Regions from separate parts of the Homo sapiens genome. Here regions 2, 3, 4 and 5 are each linked to region 1. Evidence: fine-mapped expression QTL. A gene starts in region 1. Each other region holds a variant in brackets. All regions are shown on one strand. Distances are from middle to middle. Region 1 holds the start of SEC22B (SEC22 homolog B, vesicle trafficking protein). Region 2 has its middle 37 kb from the start of RNVU1-4. Region 3 overlaps SEC22B (SEC22 homolog B, vesicle trafficking protein). Region 4 overlaps NOTCH2 (notch receptor 2). Region 5 has its middle 53 kb from the start of NBPF8.

The links. PIP is the estimated chance that this variant, and not a neighbour inherited with it, causes the effect. A credible set is the group of variants that fine-mapping cannot tell apart.
Region 2: its variant is the best candidate, but not a certain one, in a credible set for the expression of SEC22B in whole blood (GTEx, PIP 0.70).
Region 3: its variant is the best candidate, but not a certain one, in a credible set for the expression of SEC22B in whole blood (TOPMed, PIP 0.56).
Region 4: its variant is the best candidate, but not a certain one, in a credible set for the expression of SEC22B in whole blood (Lepik 2017, PIP 0.66).
Region 5: its variant is the best candidate, but not a certain one, in a credible set for the expression of SEC22B in esophagus muscle (GTEx, PIP 0.70).

Annotation. Positions count from the first base shown.
Region 1 is chr1:120,174,352-120,179,458 of GRCh38, forward strand. SEC22B (SEC22 homolog B, vesicle trafficking protein) reads right to left here and starts at 2,169. Exons shown (of 5, transcript NM_004892.6): 1 at 1,956-2,169. The coding sequence starts at 2,030. RefSeq lists enhancers at 1,291-1,856, 1,791-2,160, 1,857-2,422, 2,201-2,330.
Region 2 is chr1:120,977,122-120,982,228 of GRCh38, forward strand. No RefSeq gene overlaps it. Among named protein-coding and RNA genes, the nearest start is that of RNVU1-4, 37 kb to the left of the region's middle. The variant G/A (reference allele first, on the strand shown) is at 2,142.
Region 3 is chr1:120,151,218-120,156,324 of GRCh38, forward strand. It overlaps SEC22B (SEC22 homolog B, vesicle trafficking protein), which reads right to left. Exons shown (of 5, transcript NM_004892.6): 5 at 1-5,107. Among named protein-coding and RNA genes, the nearest start is that of SEC22B, 23 kb to the right of the region's middle. The variant G/A (reference allele first, on the strand shown) is at 3,118.
Region 4 is chr1:119,979,769-119,984,875 of GRCh38, forward strand. All of the region lies in intron 5 of NOTCH2 (notch receptor 2), which reads right to left. Among named protein-coding and RNA genes, the nearest start is that of ADAM30, 86 kb to the left of the region's middle. The variant G/T (reference allele first, on the strand shown) is at 3,089.
Region 5 is chr1:120,359,846-120,364,952 of GRCh38, forward strand. No RefSeq gene overlaps it. Among named protein-coding and RNA genes, the nearest start is that of NBPF8, 53 kb to the right of the region's middle. RefSeq lists an enhancer at 360-921. The variant T/A (reference allele first, on the strand shown) is at 2,764.

The DNA.
Region 1 (5,107 bases):
GCCTAAGATTCAGATCTTTACAGACATTAAAAGTTTAGGCAAACTTTATTATTCAAAGTCAAAATTCCTAAAGGAAAATACTATGGCACTACAATCACAAAAATATTTGTGTGTAAAATTTCTTTCCTTGTCAATTAAACAAAGCATCCCATCTTGATAAACCAATATGAAACCAATACCAAATTTATAATTAAAAAACAATAAATCAATTAATTTTTCAATAAAGTATCATGGCAGAGAGTAGGGGCCACTAATATTAAGTAGACTTTCAAGTTCACTTTGTATTCTTTGCTAACACTGGAATTCAATGCAATAATTTAAAAATTGACCAGATTCCATCCCCCCTACCCCCAACACACAGCCACCCACTGTAGGAAAACTATTTTTTAGTCAAACTACACATCCTTCAAGGATATTCCCCTGCACTATCTACTTTGTTCAAATCATATTCCTAGGTTCATTTGAACAATTACACTCCTTCTGCAGGATGGTCCTAGAGTATTCCTGAAAAACATTTCACATTAGCAAATCGGGGTATGTTAAATTGTTCACGGTTTATTTCAAAGATTAGACTTTGTTTTTATGTAATGAATAGAATATATTTCACTTAGCATGACCTGCAACTTTATTATCTGTATCACCACTCTCCTAAAAGTGAAAGTAACTATATTTCCAAATCAAACCTAAAAAGGCATATAACCAAATAGAATAATAGTTCCTTACTACTGGATCCTACTGTTACCTTAGTGTCATACCTTCTGGGAAGACTTTCCTGATTTCCTAAAACCAACTTAGATATATTTTCCATGTTCAAGCACAAAACCCTCTTCCTTCTCCTTAGCAGTTAAACTACATTTTAATAGTTTGTTGGTTATCTGATTTTTCCACTAGACTGTAAGCTCCACAAAGGTAGAGACTGTGTACTCTAACTCCCTGCATTAACACTATGCCTGGCACATTTGATGTGCTCAGTAAAAATTTTTTGCATTAATATATGAATGAAAAGTCCAACAGAAGAAATGTGCAAACTATTTTTTCAATATCTCATCTTTTTTTAAGGCTCAAGGTTTTACTTAGACTGTATGGAAAAGTAAAATAAAATTGATCACTTTAAACAAATTATATAAATTCCATTCTCAGCTTTGTCTTCAGAACCTCCCAAGCTTGCTCCAGAAACTTGTCTTACTTCAGAAATTTCCACTGTGTTTCTAAAACACAAAACATCTTTCTTTTAAGACATCTGGAGTTAGTGCTGTTTTTAATCAATTCAGTATACTTTTGAGCACCTACTAGCATAAAGCAGCTATTGTAAAAGGTATGGATAACAAAGAGATGATTAAGACCCGTCGTTTGCCCGCTAGGAAACTCAAGTTATTGAAAGACAAAGAAAAAAATAAGTTACAATGTATTGCAGGAATGTGGTACGGCGTATTGGAGAAGGTGGGAACTGGGGATAATCCTGAAAGAATGTGATGTACTGAAATTTAACAGGTGCTTTTATGTGGCAATATTACCTCACCCACTTTCAAAAGATGTCAGCAAGCTAGGTCAAGGATCAGGTGCCACGTTATAGACTTGAAGAACTTGGCTGATTTTTTCCCAGGATTTATCCATCAGCAGTCCTATTAGCAGCAGAAAATTAGAAATCCTGAATTTTAACAAAGTCCCTAAAGAGTCAAAGAACACTGGGTGATCACAATCAACCAAAGCTACCACTTCTCCAGAGCGTTTTTCTAAAGAGAAACAGCTAACACAAAAAACTTAACTCCTCCTTCAGGAAAGATTTCCTCTTCGCCGGTAGTCTCTCCTACACCAAAAGATAAAAGCGCACTTCAGAGAGGTCGGGAGTGCCCGGGAAGTCACAAAGGTCTCCCGGTCCTAGGAAGGAATCCGATGCTGAGGGCAAAGCGCGCTGACAGAGACTTGGGGTCGCGGGTCGTGAGTAAGCAGCTCACCTGTTCGTCCTCCTGCATCGAGGCGGCCAGCGGGAGCCCGTCCGCCACTCGGGCGATCATTGTTAGCAACACCATCTTCACAAACTACAGGGATCCAACACTGGCCCGGAAGGCCCTTGGCGCCGTCCTCACTTCCTCCGCCGCGACAACAGTTATACCCTATGTCTCAGTTACCGGAGATCCAGCTGCTTGCGTCTCCGCTTCCCGCTGAGGTGGCCGGAAACAGCGCAAGAGCTTTCCACTACCGGTCCCCAGAATTGGCTTCCCTCAGAGAACCACAACTATCAGAACACTGGTTCCGCGATCTGCCTTCCACCTTCTTAACTTCCAAGGTCTGGCTGGGTTTTCTGAATTTGAGGCTTCGAATAAGCCTCGCCCTTTGAGCGGCCATTGCACCCAAGCTGAATCAGAATTTTCTAGTTCCTGAAACTAAGTCTTGGGAGAGAGCTGGGAAGGAGGGTGGGAGTTAATGGGTAATCCCCATTAACCACTAACCGTTAACCATGAAGGGTATGTAAAAAAAGGAAAACCCTGAAAATTAGGCTATTTTCATATTTATTTTTTTCTGTTTTCTATGTCATATATTCTATAAAATGTTCTATATTTATATATTTCTAGACAAAGATTTTTGTCTATTTTTGCTTGTTTGTTTATGCGGTATCCCCACCAGGCTCCTTAAACAGTTTATGGTAAGAAGTCAATAAATATGTGTTGTATGTGTGAATAAATGAACAAGTACAGGACATCTTGTACCACCTAGGTCAGTCACCTACAAAAAGCTAGGATCAGGCCGGGCGCGGTGGCTCACGCCTGTAATCCAAGCACTATGGGAGGCCGAGGCGGGCGGATCACGAGGTCAGGAGATCGAGACCATCCTGGCTAACATGGTGAAACCCCGTCTCTACTAAAAAAACACAAAAAAATTAGCCGGGCGCGGTGGCGGACGCCTGTGGTCCCAGCTACTCACTCGGGAGGCTGAGGCAGAATGGCGTGAACCCGGGAGGCGGAGCTTGCAGTGAACCGAGGTTGCGTCACTGTACTCCAGCTTGGGCAACAGAGCGACACTCTGTCTCAAAAAAAAAAAATAAATAAATAAATAAATAAAATAAAAACTAGGATCTCTGATATATCTAGGTGTTCCCATCTCTTTGTTTTTTGGTGTCCCCATCTCTAAAGTGGGGATATGATCGGCCTTTCAGGGTTTTAATGAATATTAGATGAGAAAATCTAGGTGCAAGGCTTTCAAAAGCTAAAAAAAGAATTATACAAATGCTTTTATTTATCATTGCTTAATAATGACTACTCTTTACTAAGTGCTTACAGTTAGTTCTCGCATTAATAGAAACACTGTTAAGTATGTTCTAGATATTAGTTAAGCAACCCAGTAAGCTTGTTTAGTATTATATCTCCACTTTGTAGTTGAGAGGAAAGCCTCAGAGAGCTAGCAGTGATGGGAACAGGATTTGAGCTCAGGTTCAACTTCAAATCCTGATGTGATTCTGTCTTAACTTGTACCCATTAATTAAAGAGCTCAGGCTTTTGTTACCTTTTATATTGGCCTTCAGGATTAGAAGAAAACCAATATTATTTTTGTGTGGCATTTTCTTTATTAAAAAGATTCTTATTTCAATAGCTTTTGGGTTACAAGTGGGTTTTTGTTACATAGATGAATTATATAGTGGTGAAAGCTGAGATTTTAGTGCACCCATCACCTGAGTTGCGTACATTTTACTTAATAAGTAGTTTTTTAACCCTAGGTCCCTTCCCACCCTCCGCCTTCTAAGTCTCTAAAGTCCATTATATCACTCTGTATACCTTTGTGTACTCATAGCTTAGCTCACACTTAAGTGAGAACATACGGTTTTTGGTTTTCCACTCCTGAGTTACTTCACTTAGAATAATGGCCTCCAGCTCCATCCAAGTTACTGCAAAAGACATTATTTCACTCCTTTTTATGGCTGGGTAGTATTCCATGGTGTGTGTGTGTGTGTGTGTGTGTGTGTGTATCACATTTTCTTTATCCACTCATTAGTTGACAGGCACTTAGGTTGGTTCCACATCTTTGCAATTGTGAATTATGCTGCTAAGAAAAGTAATATTATTTAATGATAGACTTTTGAGACCAAAACCCAATAAGACCTAGTGATTGACTCCACATGAAAGATGAAGGACTACAATAAATAAGACAAAAAAAATTGTGCTATTAACAGAGACAGAAAGTGGAATGGAAGTGAATCCTTGTGTATATGGGAGTCTAAGTTGGTAGAATCATAGTACCTTACATTTAAAATAGCCCATAGATATAAGTTGTTCTAATTTCCCTTCCTTCCACTCAACAAGGACATGCCTTCTCCACAGCCTCAAATGATGGTCATTTGAGTAATGGGGAATTAATGCTACAAATATTTTAACTAAGGATACAGACTGCCATGTTGATTAGAGAAGCAGAGAGAGAAGAATGCAGGTGTGTGCCGAGAAGCAAATTCGGAGCAAGAATCCACATCTTTTTTCAGTTCCTGACTCTAGGCTCCTCCCAAGGCCCATACACATTCCTGCCATTGGGTTCTATCAAACACTATTGCTTCTTTATAACAAATTCCCTCTTTATCCTGCTTAGGCTACTTTGAGTTAGTTTGTTACTTAAAAACCAAAACACACACACACACACACACACACACACACACGCAAACTAATAAAAGCATGGAGTCACCCTGGAGCAATTATTTCTTGGAACAACAACATTCATACTCACACCTCTTACTTTTATCCTTTGTAAACACACTAGATGACTCTGGCACCCTTCGAACACATTGATTCCAGGAAAAGGATAGTGATCTTAGGCTGCTAATAATTTCAGCCATCAGGAGAAAACTAGAGTTGTCTTGAAACTGCCCACTATTCAGACCTTGGGAGCTCTGGCATCTGAATTCCTTTTCCTTCTGACTTGATCAGCTTCATCTCATTCACATCCAAGTGTTGTCTTTGAGCTGCTGCCCTTTGATTCTTGGAGCAATACAGTACTGTGTAATAATGGTTAACACTGTGATCAGTAAGTACATGGAAGGTTCTCAACTATTTTACATTTAATTAAACAAGAGTATCAACAAACATTTGTACCGAACTTTAAAATTTATAAAGCCCACATATGTCCT
Region 2 (5,107 bases), 800 kb after region 1:
CTTAGATTGTTCTCACACAGAGGCCATCATTTCATAACATTGTGCTGGGCCAGAAGAACCATAAGCAGGTCCCTTCCCATACCAAAGCCGTAACTATTTTGGAAAAGCCTCCTTCATATTGCAGCCATTGGACATGATAATACATGTGATGTGCTGGCATTTGTTGAGAATCATGTGAAAATTAAGCTTCCACCCCATCACACTAACGTTCCAGCCCTCCACGGTTTTCTCCCTAGGCTAAGATAGAGAGGAAGAACATGAAATGTGCAGAAAGCATTCTCTTAAGCAAACGTGTATAACTTGCATAAATTGTAATAATTTCCTGGAACAGGATGCACCTCTAACCTCTACAGGCAAATCATAGATTCCATTGTCCAGCTGTATAATGAAAACAGAGTTCTCAGAGAAGAATACCGGAGACTCTCCCGACTTGCCTGAATCAAATTTCCAGAGGTAAGTGGTGAAAGGCCACAATATGAAGTCACTCTCAGATGGGTCCCTTCTCTTGCCACACTCCACTGTAGAAATAAAAGAGGACGGGGAGGCCAGAGCTGCTCAAAACCTTATAACCCACAATTCTCATAGCTATTCTCAACTTAGAGAGGGCTGCTTTCTAGACACACCCCCTCCAGGCCCCCAGACTGCCAGGCTCCAGGAATAAGTAGCTCTAAGAAATACAGTATTTCGGTGCGAGCCACACCCCACTCTTGCAAATTGGAGAAGAGAAGGACAAACTTAAAAGGTGAAAAGATTTAACAGAACAACAGGGTGAAACCCCATCTCTAATAAAAATACAAAACTTAGCTGGGCGTGGTGGCATGCACCTGTAGTCCCAGCTACTCAGGAGGCTGAGGCAGGAGAATCATTTCAACCCAGGAGGCAGACGTTGCAGCGAGCCAAATTTGCGCCACTGCATTCTAGCCTGAGTGACAGAGCATGATTCCATCTCAAAAAAAAAAAGAAAAAAAAAAAGAAAAGAAAGACAGAAAAGATTTAAGAGAACAATTATTTTAATTGAATACATTTTGTCAAGATTAAATCAACTTTCCCCTAGAATACTGAAAGAATAAGCAATCATAATTTAGATTCTAAGTTACTGGCCTTTGAGAAAGTGTGAAATCCAAAAAGATGCCGTGAGCCAAAAAAGAGCAAAAGTCCTAATTTTCAAACTTATGAAAATAAAGTACTAAATAATTGAAATCGTCGTAGTTCATCTTGGTCCTTGGCAAAATAAAAATTTATTGATTGAAATTATAATATACTAGCTACCTTATCGTGCCTAGCTCTTACCACTGAGGAGAAAAACCAAACGCAAACAAAAGTATGTTCAAATTGGCAAAAATGTTTACAAACCTGCAAAATCTCTTCAGCCTATCCCTTAAACTGCAGACTTGGTATTTACTAAGCTCTGCTGTGTACAATACCCACCTTAATATCCATTCTTGCACAAGTTCTGTTAGGTATAAGCCAAAATCACATGGGATTTTTTTTTTTTACCCTCTCATGCCTATGTTTGCTTTTGCTTCCAAAGACCCTTCTGAGTAAGGACTGTCCTCAGACTACTGGAGTCACTTAGTCACAAGCTTGCCTGAGGCTCAGAGCTGGCAATACCTGGTAGTTTATGTCAATCCCACATGCAACCCTGCCTGCAAAGTATTTACCCATGATTGACAGGTGCAGGTGTATGAAAGCCCAGCTCCTTGACTTGAGGGGTGCGTTTGTGGTGAATTAGCTTTGGGAAAAGGGAATCCAGAGGCCAACTTTGTAAAAATCCAGATAGGTAAATGGAGAGAAATCTTTGCCTTGGAAGTCCAGTTGAGAAAGATAGTGATTTACTTCGGACTGTGAAAAGAGAGACTAAAATCTTTACTTTCTCATGGGAAAGAAGCCTATGGTGAAAGAGAAAGAAAGAAAATGGTGGGAAATAGGGTAGGTCTACTCAGTAGCTTTAAACCATTCTGTCATATTATAAAGCCTAGTAAGGTTTTAACTAACACAAGTGCCTGGACTCTACACATAGAGATTCTGATTTAAATGCTTCCAGGTGGGTGGAAGACACTAGTAGTCTTAAAATGCTCCCAAGTAATTTTAACATGTAGCTAAAGATGAAAAGGACAATCTATCTACTAGAATGTCAAGTC[G/A]CCAGCATAGGAGTGTCCCAAATGTGCAGCTACCTCATAGAAAAGGCTTAACCCCACCCATTGATGGAATTTGCCTTCCTCTCTCCATGGTCTTGTTTGCATAGCATGGAAAAAAAGAGAAGAGAAAAAGAGGTAGACGGATAGATTGAACCTATAATTTGCCTATGTGGAGCAGTTTCTCAAACTTTTCTGACCACAAGATGCAGTGAGAAATACACAATTCTTTGTGATCAGTTTTTAAAAAATCTTTTATTATGTGTAATCCACCCTTCCTAGTATTTAAATAAAGCCTGTAGTAGTAAGCAGTCCACTATATTGATTTCACAACCCATAAGTTGTTCAGAATTGCAATTAGAAAATTTTTAATTTTGGCCAGGCGTGGTGGCTCGCACCTGTAATCCCAGCACCTTGGGAGGATCACCTGAGGTCGGGAGTTTGAGACCAGCCGGACCAACATGGAGGAACCCTGTCTCTACTAAAAATAAAAAAAAAAAAAATTTTTTTTTAAATTAGCTGTGCGTGGTGGTACCTGCCTGTAATCACAGCTACTTGGGAGGATGAGGCAGGAGAATTGCTTGAACCCTGGGGGTGGAGGTTGTGGTGAGCCAAGATTGTACCATTGCACTCCAGCCTGGGCAACAAGAGCAAAACTGTCTCAAAAAAAAAAAAAACAAAGAAAGAAAGAAAAAGACAAAGAAAGAAAGTAAGAAAGAAAGAAATTTTTTTTTCACTTTTGCTCAGCCTTTTTATCAAGGAAAATCCCAAAAGAACATTTACTGTAAAAGAACATTGACTATAAACATCTTTCTGTGAATCCTTATTTCTGTCCCAGCCACCATGACCCAATAATCTCTAAAACCTGTTAGTGTTCTCCAGATTGAAGCCTTCCCTCTAACTGCTCCTAAATCTGTGATGTAGTGGAAAAGGTTTGAGGCCTTGATTCTCATCCTGGGTTTTTCACCTACAGATCATATGGCCTTAGCCTCTTGACACCATTGTCTCCTTATGGCCAAAGATGGAACTGTACTTGGGTGGTATCTGAGCACCCTGTTGGCTTTGACATTCTAGGGCTCTTCCCTTGGCACCACTCTCTTATTTAAAAGGAATAGGATGTGGACTTAGAAGGGTTATTTCTCTGCAAACTATCCTCTCTTTCTTATGACAAGCTATTTCTGAATGTGCACATTTGAGGCTAAGCAAATCCCTTCCTGGGAGGTGTGAAAGACCTTTATTTCTCTCCAGAGGAGTATTATGGATGTGGTAGAGACCTAGCTAACTCATCTGCAGCGGCTTTGAGCAAGGCTTTTAGAACCATAAGGTGGCTGGGGTCCTGTGTCCTACACCACAGGCCAGCTAGTTCATTTCAGGAGACTTTCTTTTCAATCTATTATTACTATCTTCTTCTAGACTGTAGTTCACTACCAGAGATTATCCACTTAGCTGCACTCAGTTTGCACCTGGCCTGTATCACCACTTAGCTCTCACTCTAGCCTCAGTTAGGTATCAGCAAGACCTCACCAAAGATTATTGTTTCGTTGTATGTGCGTGTGTGTTTTTGTTTGTTTCAAGTAGCAACTAATGTTGGAACTATGGAAAGTTCTTCTCTACTTTTAACAAAGCTTAGTCACAAACAGTTCCCCAGTTGATGAGAAAAACTAAAACAACAGAACAATTGAAAGTCCAAATCTGAAAGCTCCATCTCTGAAAAGCAAATTTTATAGCCACTCCAGATTTGTATTCCAAATGGACAGTTTGATTGTAGAAATCACATCCCTTCAGTCTGCAAATGTGATAACTGCCCAAGAGACAATGATGCCTAGATCCATAAATAATCCCCTTTCCCCCAACCTATATATAACTGGAGTCAACAGCAGCTAGAGGAAAATGGCAAGGACTTGGAATCAAGATTAAGTTAGAATAACACTGCTGTAGACTGTTTATCAGCTCTTCAGCATATGTCCACTTTCCTTGAAGGATAAGCCTTTAGAAACCTCTGACAATAAAGTTTATTTTACACACATTCTCTTGCCTATGATTTTTTTGTACAAATCACAATTACAAAACTTTCTTGCTCCAGCTAAAAGCAGGAAACTCAGTCACAAATGTGTTCACTACATGTATACCACAGAATGATAGCAGCCAGTCTGAATGCATCACTTGATTCCAAAATTAAATGTTAGCACTCAGTAGTGAAACTACATGTATCTCCAACTCTGGAAGCCCCAGGCAAGATACTCCTGTTTCCTGCAGGGAAACAGATCTATAAGCAGGGCAGCAGTCTCACACATGTACATTCCTGGGAAACCCAAGGAAACAATGATAGTGACGCAGGGCAGGCGAGCCTCAAAACTGGTTTGTAGCCTGAGAAATTTCTCCCAGACTGTAGTTTCCTTGGCTTTGCCAAGGAAAGAATTCAAGGGCAAGCCGCTGGTGAAAGCAAGCAACTTTTATTGAACTGGTGCTGCTACTTGCAGAGCAGGGCTAACCCATAGGCAATGTGCCCAGAGTTGGTGCCTGTGGGCTGCTAGCTAGTTGTATTTAGACCCACTTTTAATTACATGCCAATTAAGAGGTAGGTTATTCAGAACTTCCTGGAAAAGGGGCAGGGAGTTTCCAGAACCATATAAAGTAACTTCCAGGCCATTGCCAAGGTGTGTTGCCATGACATTTGTAAACTGGCCATGGTCCCAGTGGTAGTGTCTTTATGCTCATAAGCAGTGAGAGCAACTAGAGGTCACTTTCATCATCATCTGCTGGTTTCAGCAGGCTTCTTCACTGCACCCTGTTTTGACCAGATCCTGCTCTGTTCAATGGTCCTTCTGGTCTCCTACCTCATTTCCCCATCAGAGATTATATACTCCTCCTTAATCTTAAGGGGCTTGCAGAAGGGTGGAGGTTCATCTTCTGTAACTGCTTCCTGCTGATGTTATGGGCATAGACCCTGTCTAGCACTGGAGAAGTAAAAT
Region 3 (5,107 bases), 23 kb before region 1:
TTTGACTGGTTAGAGACGCTAGATTATTTTGTGTGGCTAAGACAAAACAAAGCTGGTGGGGAGTGGCAGGAGGTAAGTCTAGAATGGCACAATGGGGCCAGACTGCGAATGGCAAACAAGTATGTGATCTTTTATTCTAAAGAAAATGTAGTATGATTAGCACACACACACACAAAAATTATTGGCCGGGCGCAGTGGCCCATGCCTGTAATCCCAGCACTTTGGGAGGCCGAGGAGGGTGGATCATGAGGTCAGGAGTTCAAGACGGTGAAACTCCATCTCTACTAAAAATACAAAAATTAGCCAGGAGCTGTGGCAGGTGCCTGTAATCCCAGCTACTCAGTAGGCTGAGGCAGGAGAATCACTTGAACCCGGGAGGTGGAGGTTGCAGTGAGCTGAGATCGCGCCACTGCACTCTAGCCTCGGCGACAGAGCAAGACTAAAAATAAAAATGAAAAAATTATTATCCATGGTATTATCATGGTAGTACTGACTAAAAGAGGGACATGTGTAACAAAATCAGTAAGGAGGGTACTCCAAGAATCCATGTTAAAGTTAATGAGGGCTTGAACCCAAACATAAAGGATGGAAATGATGTAATAAAATACCTTTTGAAAGTTATATTAAAAAATTTTTGGTTAATAGTCTAGTTAGAGGTGAAAGAAGAAAGCAGAGGAGTCTAATGCAATGCGTGACTTGTAGCTCAGGTAAAGGGGTGGCAGGTGACGCTTAAATACTAGAAATATAAGAAGCAGCACAGGTTTGGTTTTATCTTTGAGAACAATGGAGTGGAGGTATGCTTTAGATGCAATTATTTATGGGATATTCAAAACAGATATATATGAAGCAAAAAACTTGGGCCCAAAAAACAAGTTTGAAGGTATATTTGGGAGTTACCAGTAATATAGGTAACTGTTGAAGCTCTAAATATAGAAGACAAACTAGAGGAGCTTGTTTCTTGAAGAATTCTTGTCACACTTGACATTTTTTACAGAGATTTCTTAAAACAGGGGCATATCTTCTTTGGCTAACATATGCAGACTAAAATGAAAGAGTATAGTATATTATAAAATCAATAAAAGGTAAGATAAATTTAGGCCTAAAAATAAAGAATAAATACACTCAGTTGATTCTGAAGCTCTAATTTACAGATGCAAAATTGTACCAGTACATTAACTCATATGTCAAAACAACATCTAGAGAAACAAAAAATGAAAGTAAAATGGAAAAAGATAAAAGAAGTGAGGCAAGGAGAAGAGAATGGACAAAAGGAGATAGGAAAAACAGGAATTTTTTTTTTAAGGGCTAAAATTTTAGTGAATCAGATGTGGAAAACAGTTGGATTAACATTGAGATCAAATGAGAAAGGAGCAAATAAGGAAAGAGGTATTACAAACCAAGAGTAAAAAAGGGAAAACAAAATAACAAAAGCAAAAACTATTTAAAAAGAATAAAGGAAGACGTGATAATGAAGTAAATTTAAAAAGTACGGAATAATAAAAAGAAATTGCAAAAAATAACTTTTGAAAATAAACATACTAATAACTTGACAATAAAGTGAAATGTGTAAGACAAACGTATCTGTGTCATTATTTAGGAGTAGTGAAAAGTACTCTTAAATAATAATTTGGTATCTAGCAGGCCTGGATTTGAATCTACTTTAACTTGCTAGCTATGTGACCTTGGGCAAGCAAAGAAACTCCTCATAACCATTGTAATAATACCAGCAAAATGCCTTACACTTACGGCTCAAAAAATGAAGGAAATGAGAGAAAAAAGTATAGATTACTATATGGAAGTCAAATTTCTAGTGACTTTTCTAATCCAAACATGAATTGTTACAGTACTTGAAATAAACTTTATGAGAACTGAGTGACTACATTGCTTCAGATAGTTTTATACTGCTAGGTCAACGCTGCCTGACAGTAATAAGAATAGGATGTGAGATTCAATATGCTCATTCTATCTCAAACTCTGTCACACATACAATGACTGCTATTTACCTTCCTCCTGAGCCATCTGGGAAAAAACCAACCAACCAACCAACCAAACAAAAGAAAAACCCACCAGGTAGGAGTCAGTTAGTTCTGCTAACTAACTAACCAAAAACCTTAATTGTATGGCCATCAGCACCCTAGCCCTTTGTCATGAAAGCTACCAATAAGGTGGAAATTTAAAATATGAGATATTTTATTATACATGTTTTATTAAACCCTATATGTGCAGAAATGATTGTCCATTTTCCTTCTTAACTTGCTTTTGTAAGACTTATTAAGTAGAAAATATAAATCTCAAGCTCCTTAAATGTGATTTTGAGGAACTGAGACCAAAACAATTTTTTGCTGTGGAACCAGATCCTTGAATGCACTACAGGAAAATATTATTTGATATGAAATTTTTTTGGTACACACAATTTTTCAAAAATATATCTCTCTCCACAAAGTTAATTCAAATTGTAGAATTCTTCCAAGTCACAGATGGAGTTTTCAAGGCTCTGGGTACTTACCTTTGAGTTCCACATCCTTTATCTCTGGAGCTCTTAACTGAGGGAACATGGACCATTAGGTCATGAACAGACTTTGTAGTCTTTGAACAGCCTGAAACAGTATGTGATACTTGATGTGCATGTACACAGGAACATTTTTCTAGAGTAATGGCACATACCTTTCATCAGATTTTCAAAGGTTTCTCAAAATGCTCAAGAACCATTGTTAGATATTTAAATAACCAGAGTGTACAGTGTCCAAATATTTCCAAATTTTGACACTTGTAAGATGTCTTAATTAAAACAAGCCATGAAGTTCAGCGTCACAATAACCAGAAAAGCACTTGTGAGAGTAGTTCTATGTCTTTACTTCCTAGTGGTTTACACACTCTTTAACCCATATGGCAATCTGGCTTCTGTCTCCAGTGCTCTGGAATTACTTCTGCCTGTATGATTAAGTTCCTCATTGTTAAATTCGAAAATACATTCTTTGGTATTTATTTGACCTCTTGGTGGTAATATAGCGTAAGAGCACAGACTCTGGAGCCAAACTGCCTAGGTTCAAATCTTAGCTCTATTACTTTCTAACTCTGTGACTTTGGGCAAATGACTTAACTCTCTCATGCCTCAAA[G/A]CAGAATCCTTTGTAAGGTTTATTTATATAGTGGTGTAAAGAGTACTTACTTCAAAAGCTTTGGTCAGTGTGAGAAATAAGCTCCTAACAAAGAAAGTGTTATGTAATAGTTATTATCTGGTACCTCTGATCACAACATTTTTGAAAATCACTTGAAATCTGCCTAAGTTTCATTCTGCCTTTGATGGCTCCTTATTTTCATCTCCCTACTTCAGGCTTCCTCCCTAATATATCTTTTATGCCAATATTATGATCACTTGAAACTATAAATCTGATGCCATCCTTGGCCACTACCATTAAGATGGTCTAAACTCCTCAGCATGATAGACAAGTCCCTTTATGATAGTGTACCCATCTAGTTCTCATTCCTCAAGTCTCCTCTGTTGTCTATGCTTACCCTATGGGCTAAGCTGAATCAAGCTGTTACATTTCCAAAATATGCCTCACTGTCTTTATTCATGCCTTTGCACATGCCATTGACTCTTCCTAGAATGCCCCATTCTCCTTCTCTAGAAAGTCTTCTCTTAACATACTTCTTCCCAAAATAAATTAGGTGTCCTTTCTTAATATGCCTCCAATAACCCCATACAGTATTTATCCCATTCTATTTTAGATGCCAGTTTGGTTGATGATACATTTCATCTAGTCAGATCTTCCCACTGCCTCTTATAAAGAAAACCAGGAGCCATATTATGATATTCTTGTTCTCTAATTTTTCTGCTGCCCTGATCTTAAACCACTTTCTTCTCCCTTTGTTGACAATTACCCCACCCCTTATTTCTTAATTAGCCCAACAAGATTAGATAGAAATGTATCTACAAAGGATATATGTATATAAATTAACTAGATAACAAAACTTCACACTGAAGTGAACATTCTACAAGTATTTATTTCATTGCTGACCATTAGGTTGCAGCATGCAACTCTCAACAATGAGCTGCCCCTCTCCACTCCTATAGAAGCTCCAAATACTATGGTACCACTATGTAGGTTTTCAGCCTTTCAAAGGCTTTTATTATTAACATCATCATTACTTCAGCAGGAGCCTTTTAGGGACTTAAAAGCACTGATTATCTATAAAAAGTAACTTCATATTTCATGCACAAAATTCCCAATTGGCAGATTTAGGTCCATAAAAGAAAGGAAAAAAATTATTCTAGTTATATAAATTATCAGGAATAAAATAGCATTTCTCCTTGCCTTGTTATAAGGAAATAATATATTTTTCCTTACCAGGAATCAGGATAGTATCTTTGATGATCCCTCAGGGTTATAAAATTGCTTACTGGTTAAAGTTTTTTGCCAAAGATATTAAGAAATAAAAAGTTCGCTCATTTTCCTGTGCAATTTAAAGAAATATTTGCAGTATGTACAGGAATTTTAAGTTATATTGCAGACCCTGGCAATAATATTTAAAAGGCCTATTTTCCCCATTAAAAAATTCTACCTCAGAAGGTAAAAGGAAATCTCCATCATCCCTGAGCAGAAAAGGAAAAAATCATGGGTACTTTAATTAGTTAATAGAAACCACTGTAAATGAGTTATCTATCTCCAGAACATTCTCAGAGAATTTACACGAACTAAAACAGGAATGAAGTGCTCTCAGAGACTTTTTCTCAGGTAAATGTATTTAGTAGTTTGAGTAGTTGATCTGCAAAAACTTTAACTTTAATTAACTACATAGATGAATATTTTTTATTTTGAAATTTGAGAATGTCCTAAGAGGATGTCTACAGGATATGAAACTACTGGGTGCAGGAAAATTTTTTAAATGTTAGCAAATTGTGGCAAGAGGAAAACAAACAGTGGAGAAAACTGTGGTAGAGAAAGTAAAGAAGGGGCAGGAGAAAGCTGTAATTATAACCTGGGCCTGCCTTTGTTCTCATGAAGCCAGGGGCCTCTCCATATCCTATACTTGCTCTTACGCTAATAACAAACCAAATGCTGCAAAATAAAAGTAATAATGACCCAAACTAATTTAAGTCTTTTG
Region 4 (5,107 bases), 190 kb before region 1:
TAACAATAATATAAATATTGAAACCCAGATTATTTATACAAAGTCTAGTGAGTGAGTGAAAGCTATGAGAAGTATGCTAATTCCTCATCTTCGAGAGAAAGAAATCAATAAATACATTCTAATTTCTGACATTAAAAGTAGATAGATGAATTGAAGTCCTTTAAAAATTAAAAAAAAGACATAGTATAATATAAATTATCACACCATGGTCTGTCGTTCTCGTGGACCAATTTCCTCTTCCTAGAATGACAAGCATGTGGCTTATGTTCTCGCTCTTTCCTCTCCTGTCTCGCATGATATCAACATCTGGGTTGAGGACCAGTAAGGTCATCTGAGTCAAGAGTTCTTACTTTTCTCAACCTTACAGACCTCCGCATCCATTCCATATCACAAGCACGCTCACATTCTACACCTCTGTTACAAGACACTCATTGTTCTAGTCCAAGATCTCAAACTTGGTACTTCCACTCTCTGACTATAACTTTCCCATCTTCTTCCTTTCCCATTCCCAGCAGACATCTTACCTAAAGTATTCCCCACTAAAAACTGTAAGAGTAAACCCCTCCCAATAATCCACTTCATTAGCCAACGCCCTTTGAGCTGCCTTACTCTTAGTGTAGCCAAGCTCTATGGTCAATGAGATGAATAAAGTTTCTGTCTCCCATAACCCTGCGTTGTGTCTCCCTCGCTCTTCCTTTTCAGTTGTGCAAAATCTTACATAGTGATCTAAACCCATTTTGCCCCTTCCTTCTCCCCAAAGCCTACTTTTTCCTTTAACTTCCTCAATCTAGCTTCTTAGTCTTGTCTGTATTAAAACTGTATTTCAGAAAATTTCTAATGACTCAAATATTCTAATGAATATTTTGCAGTTATCATTTATATTTGAGTCTCCTGGTTGTCAGTTATTAATAACCATGGTTTGTTAAAATCAGTTCTGGGAATGTCAAAATAAGTAAGAGCAGTTTCCTGCCTTCCAGAGGCTGATAGTCTCTTAGGCAAGCTGAACAAATAACGCAGTAAGAGAAGTAAAATATTACAGGAGCTGCCACCAAGGCATGTGGAGTTGAGTTCAGGGCAAGCTTCTAAGGCTGTACCCTTTAACTTGAGGATGCTATCATGGCCGAGCTCTCTTCCCACCTCTCAAACCTCCCCTTTTCTCACTTTCCTTCTTTGGATCCCCTTCCTCGTCAATTTTCTGAAGTGTGGATGTTTCTCATACTTCGGGTCCAAATCCTCTGTTCTTATCACTCCATCCAATTTCCCTCACAGACTTGACACATTCCATGGTAACCCTGAGTCTCTCGTCCCTGCCTGTATTCTGAGCTCCTGGGTCTTACTGCTGCATGTTTTTCACTTGGAAAACTCATCTCCAACTTACCATCATTTCTACCCTATTTCTCCTTCTCTGTCAACAGTTCCCATCCATTACTCAGACTCAAAACAGAAGTTCACTCTTCTCGATCACCTTCCTTACCCCACCAAGTACTTAGATGCTTCCCCATTCCCACCATTGTTTCTTTCAAATTCACATTCACACACACCTTCTGCTTCCTAGTGTGGTTATGTGTGGACTTTCTTATGTCTTCCTAGTCAATTTTACCACTCTTAAAATAGGAATTTTTTCTTTGTGTCTCTTACAGTATCTAGCATAATATATTCCATGTAGTAGTTGTTCAATAAATATCTGTAAGTAGGTCCAATAGATAAATTATTGAACCTACTAACAACCGTTCCATGGGGGCTTAGAGAGCCATGAAGTTAAACTGGATCGTGCCTGTAACATAGCCAAGGCTACACCCTGAGTCATGGACTGCAGGGCAGGAAAGATCCTGCCTGCAGTCTCACCTCCTGCATGTGGGGCTAGACTATCCACTCGTCCTTGTTTCCACCAACAGCGCCACTAATCAACTCTGGGACATCTGGGGCAAGGGTGCTTCAGGTTAGCACTGTGGCAGTCTGCCCAACTGATAGGAAACCGAATTTGGGGTGAGGAGGTAGAATTCAGAAAACAGGCTTATTATACTTCTCACAATCAGGCTTACAGCAGAAAAATTGAAATGTGAGACATATTTTCCCATTCCTCCATGTAGAATATAAAAGAGAGCAGCTTTGAAATACCATATATAATTAAGTAGTATTCTCTCTCAATCAAAAAACCTCCATCCCTATAGTCCTAAAAAAAAAAAAGTAGAAAAATGGTTGTGAGAAAAGCCTTACTCTAGAGAATAATTCATCACCAGCTAGAGGCTAGACTGAGACAGGAAGATCTAGCTCAAAATAAAAGCACCATCATGAAAATCTCCATTCCCAGACACAAGGAGCTCATGCACCACCTCTGGCAAATGTACTTGCCAACTCACATCAAACATTTTTACTGAATTGGGAGCACTGACAGCAATGAAAACCTCCCCCAGCTCTTGAGGCTCATCATGCTGTAAAGGAGAGCTGAGAGAAAGTGTGGTCAGTTTTCTTTGACTCATATCCACCTAACTTCCATTGTTCACTTCTGCTTCATGTCCCAGAGCACTATTCCAAGCCCATGCTGAAATTATATTTCTGGATTAATAACAAGCACAAGAAAATAAATCACATCTGCCCCAGAAGTGAGCCCAAAGTCAAAAGCAGCCACAGAGAGGAATTTGTGAGTTGAGCTTAGGGTCAACTTTAATTCTGAAGGAAATGAACCTTTAAAAAGAAAATTCAAATAACAGTCTATGTAGACAAAACATTAATCTACACTGCTCTAATAAATTTTGGGCCCTTTAAAACCCTTTTTTCCTTAAATGGATATCTGCCAGAGCAGAACTTCTCTGATAAGATGGCCTGAGGCCAAATACAGTATAATAAAGACGTTTGTGCTCTATCTTCATCCAACCATCAGGTCTACTTCTATTTCCTAAAGGAATATCCAGTATTCAGGCTTATCCCTATAAGACACTTCCCTATAAAGAAGTAAATCATCTCCCCACACCCACTCCCTAAGACCAATTTCTTTTTTCCATCTGAGCTTAAGCTAGTCCACAAGAGTGGTAGTTTTTGAAGGCACAAACAAACACTAATTAGACAGCCACAGTAGGTAAAAACGCCT[G/T]TAGTGGGGTATATAACACAGTTCTGCCCACAGGCCATGGGGAAACCATCTATTCCTCTACTTCAGGGCTAGAACAGATGCTTCTACAAAGCAGCAGCAATGGTAATACCTACAGACCATCTTTGCATCTGAAGTAATGCTGTCCAACTGAAATATAATGAGAGTAACAGATATAATTTCAAATTTTCCAGTGGCTACTAAAATATTTAATGGTAAAAAGGAATAGGGGAAATTAATTTTAATATTATGTTATATTTAATTCAATGTACCAAAATGTATTATTTCAGCATCTAATCAATATTTAAACATTATTAAAAAGATATCTTTTTTTCCATATGAAGTTCTTTTTTTTTTTTTGAGACAGGTTCTTGGTCTCACTCTGTCCCCTAGGGTGGAATGTGCAGTGGCGTGATTAGCCTCCCAAGTGACCAGGACTACAGGTGCACGCCACCACACCCAGCTAATTTTGTATTTTTTGTAGAGACAGGGTTTTGCCATGTTACGCAGGCTGTTCTCAAACTCCTGGGCCCAAGAGATCCATTCATCTCAGTTTCCCAAAGTGCTGGGATTAGAGGCATGAGCCACTGTGCCCGGCCATACTAAGTCTTCAAAATCAGTTATTTGACAATTACAACACATCTCAATTCACATTAGCCATATTTCAGATGCTCAATAGCAAGATGAAACCAGGGGCCACCATATAGAATAGGATGAATTTAGAATGTTTAGCATAATAGCTGTTGGCAGAACAAATGAAAAAATAAACTTTTTATTGCATTTTTGATTGTTTCAATATCCCAAGAAAGAGATAATAGCAAATGAAGGCTTCTGAGAAAAGGAGGCTGACAAATTTACCCTAAATCAAACCATGAATAGAGCTGGAATTTATGCTCATCTTGAAGTGTAGAACTTGCTACAAAACACCAAGCCTTTTATGTATATGTAGTTACAAAACAAAGCCGTAACTATCAGGTTCTTCTCATTAAAAGCATGGCAAATTTCCAAATCTCCATTTATTTAAAATTAATGCCTATCTTTTTTCAGCCATATAGTCTTATCCATTCTTTTTCAAATAGCTGGCAACTTCATTTCCTTCATTTTCTCACCTCACTACTCCAACCCCTCCTTTTTCATTTTGTCAAAAGCCAGACCAAATAGTTAATGCTTCAAGTCTACAGGTGGAAATTGTAAAAGGAATTCTGAACAAAGTTGCAATAGGCTATTAGGTATAGTGAAAAAGCATCAGACTGAATCTAAAGCATACACATAATGTTAACTTCTAACCTCAAAATAACCAGCTAGGTTCTTAAAAAGGGAAAACACATGGAGTAAATCACCAAATCTCAGGATAATGAAATTTTCAGTCTATTAAAAAACACCCCAAGTTCTTAAAATAAAACAAGATAATTTACAAAATCAATTTTATATAGAAAAAAGACTACAGATTTGAGCAAAGATTTGGAGTTCAACAAGCCTAGATTCAAACCCTAACCCAACCACTACGGGTCTTGGGCAAATTATTTAACCCTTTTGAATACGCATCATCATCTGAAAAAAGGATATTTAAACTCTATCTCTAATACAGTTATTGCAAAGATTACACAGATAAAACATTGTAATTAGCACAGTATTTGGATGCTAATAAACATTAGTTAACTCCTACTAGATTCCTGCTCCATTCACTTCTTTAATTTGTGTAACACAGAAAAGACTAATCTGAATTTATACATCTAATATCAGTAGAAACAGAAGCCCTATGACACAAAATTTTCCTTCTGTTTTTCTCTTTACAATAGGATAGGGGCTGGGATGGTAAATAGCTCAGCTACATGCTACTGAGAACAAAGGTCTGTAAGGAGTGCTAGTAACTGCTGTCATCAATAGTCCAACCGCCCCCATAACTCGGTACATCCCTCACATCAAGCATATAATAATATCAATACAAACGTGGTAAGTGTTATTACAGGAGAATACATGGGGTACTAAGGGAGTCCAGAGTAGAACATTTAGCTCAGCCTG
Region 5 (5,107 bases), 190 kb after region 1:
CTCACTAAAGAGCCTCAAGTTTCTCAGCTACAACCTGGAGGAAGTGTCTGAAAGCTGATTTTCTGATGCCCAGCCCCAGGCCTCCTTTTCCACCGCACAAGATCAGACCTGCTTTTCTCTAAATCAGAATTAGGCACGCCACTCCAGATGAAAGAGCCCTGTCGTTGAAATGCCTTTCTTTGGCCCACACTAAGTATAATTTCTGCTCCCGTTTGAACTCAAATATCACATGTATATTTTAACAGCTGCTGCTCTCTAAGCAAACTGATTCACATAGAAAATCCAGGATTGTGACTACTTATTTTTTCCTCTCTACACATGAAACAGATTCCCTGGAAACACAGTTATCTTAAGTAGCTGGAATTGTCTAACTTCGGTTACTTTATTATTTACAAATCAGCCAGGTGAGAACAAGAAAGTGAAAAGCAGGAAACAAGATAGGCAGAGAAACAAAGGGCTCGATCGCAAGAGCAGCAAGATGCCTGAGCAGACCCACAGGGTTCTCAGGGCTGCAGCAAAAATCAAAGAACAGTCGTGGTCTCAGGACTCGCCATAGATCAGACCACAGCTTCCAACCATGCCACAGGCTGTCTGTGTGTTCCCTGCACACCATTCATTTTTGTCCTTCTATTTTAATGATCTGAAACCAAGTTTGGGCCATGTGTAGACAGGCCATTCGGAGGAGGCTTCGGGAAGGAGGGTGCATCTGAGACTAGTTGTAAAAGATGAGGAGGATTTCCACAATCGCTCGAAGGAAAGGGGCATTTCAGAAAGAGAGAAGAGCACGTTCACGTGAGCCCAGATAGGAGCACGGGGCACACGCAGGAAACTTCCTGATGCTGGAGTTCATGCGCACGGTGGACGCAGGCTTGGCAGCCCGCAAGGCAGAAGGGGAGGTGGTGCGGGAACCGTGGCTGCTCTAGCAAACTTGAGCTCCATTCTGCAGGCTCAAGGAGACATGGAGTAAGAGGAAGGACTCCTTGGGTGCATTGTTCATGGGAGGACAAATTAGAAAGGGGATTATCTCATGGCAGGCAGCCACTTCCAAGTAGGGAAGTTGGAGAACTTGTTGTCAGGTGGAAGAAAAGAGAAGACCCTTGAAAAGTCATCCAGGAATGGGTGTGCACAAACATGGAGTGTGTTCCTCATGCCGTAATTCTGATCCAGGTCCTTGACTTAACTGCATTGCCATTAAGCTTGTGAAAGGAGGGGAAAGCCGGTACCAGACATTGGTTATATGTCCAATATCTGTTTGACTCTTTGTTAGAGGTATTACCTAAGTTATCTTACAATACTCTAAAAGCAATTCTACAAAGCCCATTGCTATTTTACAGAAATGAAATCTGAAAATGAAGAGGGTCAAGTAAACTAAGAAGTCTACGCATAACTAAGAAGTGGGGCTGCCTGACCCCAATCCTGCACTCTTGGCTCTTTATGACTTCACTTGTGAGCATACTGAACTCAAAGTGTTCTGGACGTCTCCAGGTAGAGGGCTCTAGGAGGCAGCTGAGTACGTGAGTCTGGAACTTAGGAGAGTTCCAAGCAGGGCTGTGGGTGTGGGATGGGGTGCATGGGAAGGAGGTTGTCAAAGCAAAGCAATGCGCAGCTGCTTAGGGAGGGGGCACAGGAGAGTGGCCTGGCCCTTCTTAGATCATTGTCAACTCAACTTGTCTAAATGGCTTTTAAGACCTCAGTTATCACCTGTATTAATTCTGGCCTATGGTATTTTGCAGCTCTTCGGGAAATAGTGATCCTTTGTTTCTGACAAAGTTCTTCTTAAAGGGTTTATTGTCTTATTTACTAGGAATCATGGGGAATAGAGTGTTACACAATGTAATTTTTTCCCTAACAAATGAAGCTTATTTTTATAAATTCCAGGGCTTTTAATTTGAATCATGCTTAACTATTTTTCTATATTTTATTACATTGTTTGCTTCCTCCCTAAAGACAGTATATTTTAGTATTTTCACAGAAAAATGAGAAGCCCTCATTATGAACATACCTGATTAAATTGAGCATTTCCAAGTGATGTCCACATCATTGCTCAAGTGTTATGAGGCCACAGGATGAACTACTGCCCCCCGAATGATGCTAGAATGCTGTGCCTTTATTTATTTCATTGGACAACTCATTCAACATATATTTATCAAGTGACTCCTATAAGAGTAACTAAAATAGAATTTCCTGCTTTTGTAGACCTTACACTATAGTTGATTCCATAGTGTCTAGTGTTTCATGAAATTATACAAAATGTCACTAAATCTAAAATGCCATTGGTAATGACATACACTTTTTAATGCACTAATATTAAATAATGCTGAAATTAAGTTATGCTTATCTAATGTAAGATACATTGCAGTTTCAGATACTAAAATTTGAACAAGTAGACAAACGTTTCTCTTGAAATCAGTGAAATCTCTATCTAAATCCCTTAGAATAGGGTTAGCACATAGTATTCCAGGAAAGCAAAGCTCTAATTATTATTGTTGGATTGTACCCAGATTATGTTACTATTTAAGTTTCTACTTTATGTAAAGCACTTTTTCATATGGATATTCTTTATCCTAACAATAGTCCATTTGTTACACCAGAAGTAACACCAGATACTTCTGAATAATAATGGCAGTTAAATCTGTGGTTTTGTGGAATTTTGCTTATATACGTCACTGTTGATTCAAACAATATAGCAGCTCTAAGAACATCTGTGCCTCCAGCCTCTGCATTTCAACCATGAGAGCGTCATTTCTCTCCATGATGCTTAAA[T/A]TAAAAATCTAAATATTTGGTAAATTTTACGCTTTTCTAGAATATGTTTTGTTACTATTATATTCTAGTAAAAACAAAAAATGTTCTTAGCCTGAGAAAGATTTTACAGAAAAGCTTTAGTAAACATTACACTTCATAATGTACCTGTACTACACTAAATCTATAATGTACTTATACTAAAGAGTGAACTATATTATCTTTGAGTTTAGGAATAAGATGAGTAAATATGTAAATGTAATAATGAGAAACTATTAAAATGCAGTAGTTTCATTCAATATGATTATTTAAATAGAAAATCCAAAAATTTGTACATGAATTAAATTAATAAACAAATTCAATGAGTTTACTAGATACAAAATTCATTGTCCAAAGGAATTGTATTTCTTTACACCAGCAATAATGTTAAAAATAATAATTTATAAGATTAACTTCATATTTCATGAAAAGTGTAAAATTTAAGAATAAATTTAAAAATAGTGTACGAAGTCTTTATATACAATAATATAAAACTTTTGTACAATAATAACATCAAAATGAGGGGTGATATGTACTATGTTCATAGGTTAAATGTCTCACTTTTATAATAATGTTAATTCTCAAACATATTTATATTATGCTTGAGTTTGACAAAATTATATACGTTTGACAAAATTCCAATAAATTCCCAATACATTTTGTGGAACTTATAAACTACACAATAAAGGCCAAAACAGTCCTTAAGAAAAACAAGTTGAGAAGACTTGACATATCATGAATGATTTGAAATTTACAAATTTCAGAATTTTTCCCATTGTAATATAAGCATGTAATACTATCACATTTCCCCAAATGGCTACTTTAAGTGCATCCTACAAATTGTGATATATTCTGTTTTTGTTTTCATCTTTGTTCTCTTTGAAATACTTTCTAAGTTCATCTGTGACTTCCTCCTTGACTCAGGAATTTTTAGAAGTGTGTTGTTTCATTTCAGAACATTTGGAAATTATTTATTTCTAGTTTCATTTAGTTGTGCTTAGAGATCATACTGTGTATGATTTCTATTCTTTTTAATGTACTGAGACATGTTTATATAGCCCAGATTATCATCAATTTTAGTGAATGTTTTAAATGTGCAGTTGCTAACAATGTCTTTTATATTGCTGTTTAGTGGACTGTTTTAGAAAAGTCAATCAGGTAAATCTGATTAAGAGTATTGTTTTTCTTCTATCCTTTTGCTGGTTTCTTATCTCATTCTATTAGTTACTGAAAAAAATGGGTTAGAATCTACAATCTCCAACAATAACGGGATATATCCATTTCTTTTTTCTGTTGTATATTTCTTCTTTGTATATTTTAAAGATCTATTGTTGGGCAATATTTGGTATTGTTGTGTCTTCTTGTTGAATTGACCCTTCTAACATCATGAAATGTTATGCAATTCTGGTAACATTTCTTATTGTAAAACTTACCATTTCTGTCCAAATCTATGCCCTGTCCCTTTATAAAATAATGATGATAACAAATAATACATAATATTTATTGTTTTTTTATCTCCCATTTTTAAAAATTCTGGGGGTTTAGATTATTTGAATTTATATAATTATTGATAAAACTAAAATCAAATCCACCATCTTTCCATTTGTTTTCTACTTGTTCCATCTTGCTTCTTAATTTTATTTTTATTTTTTAAATTTTTATTTCATCTAGAGTTTACAATACACATCTTTAACTTATCACAGCTCTATGTAGAGTATAAAGAATGTACAGCAGGAGAAGTCAGTTTTTCTCTTCTGTCTTTGCACTACCGTTATCATACATTTTACTTCAAATGCATACATTTAACATGTGCCACAAATCCTATAACACTTTATTGTTTTTGCTTTAAATAATCAATTATCTTTTAAGGAGAAAAAACAAAAAATTTTTACATAATTTTTATATATTTCTGGGACTCTTAATTTCTTTTTTTATAGATCAAATTTTCCTTCTGGTATTATATTTCTTTTACTAAAGAAATTTTCTTTAACACTTATGTAGTGCAAATGTGCTAATAATGAATCAGCTCAGTATTTGTTCTGAAAAGTCTTTTTCTTTTTGGAAGACATTTTTGCTGGTTAAAGACTTCTAGGTTGGCAAAAATGTTTTTAAGTACTTTAAAGAACAGCTCTATAGTTCCTGGCCATTTTTTTCTTACTTACATAGATTCCGATGAGGAGTCTGCAGTATTCTTGATTGTATGTAGTGGGTTTTCCCCTCATGAGCTGTTCTGCCCCTCTCTCTCGGTTCTCTTCTTCTGGCACTCCAATTACATATACATTCAACTCCTTGACGCTTTCCCAAGTGCAGTGCTGGAGACTGAAGATTT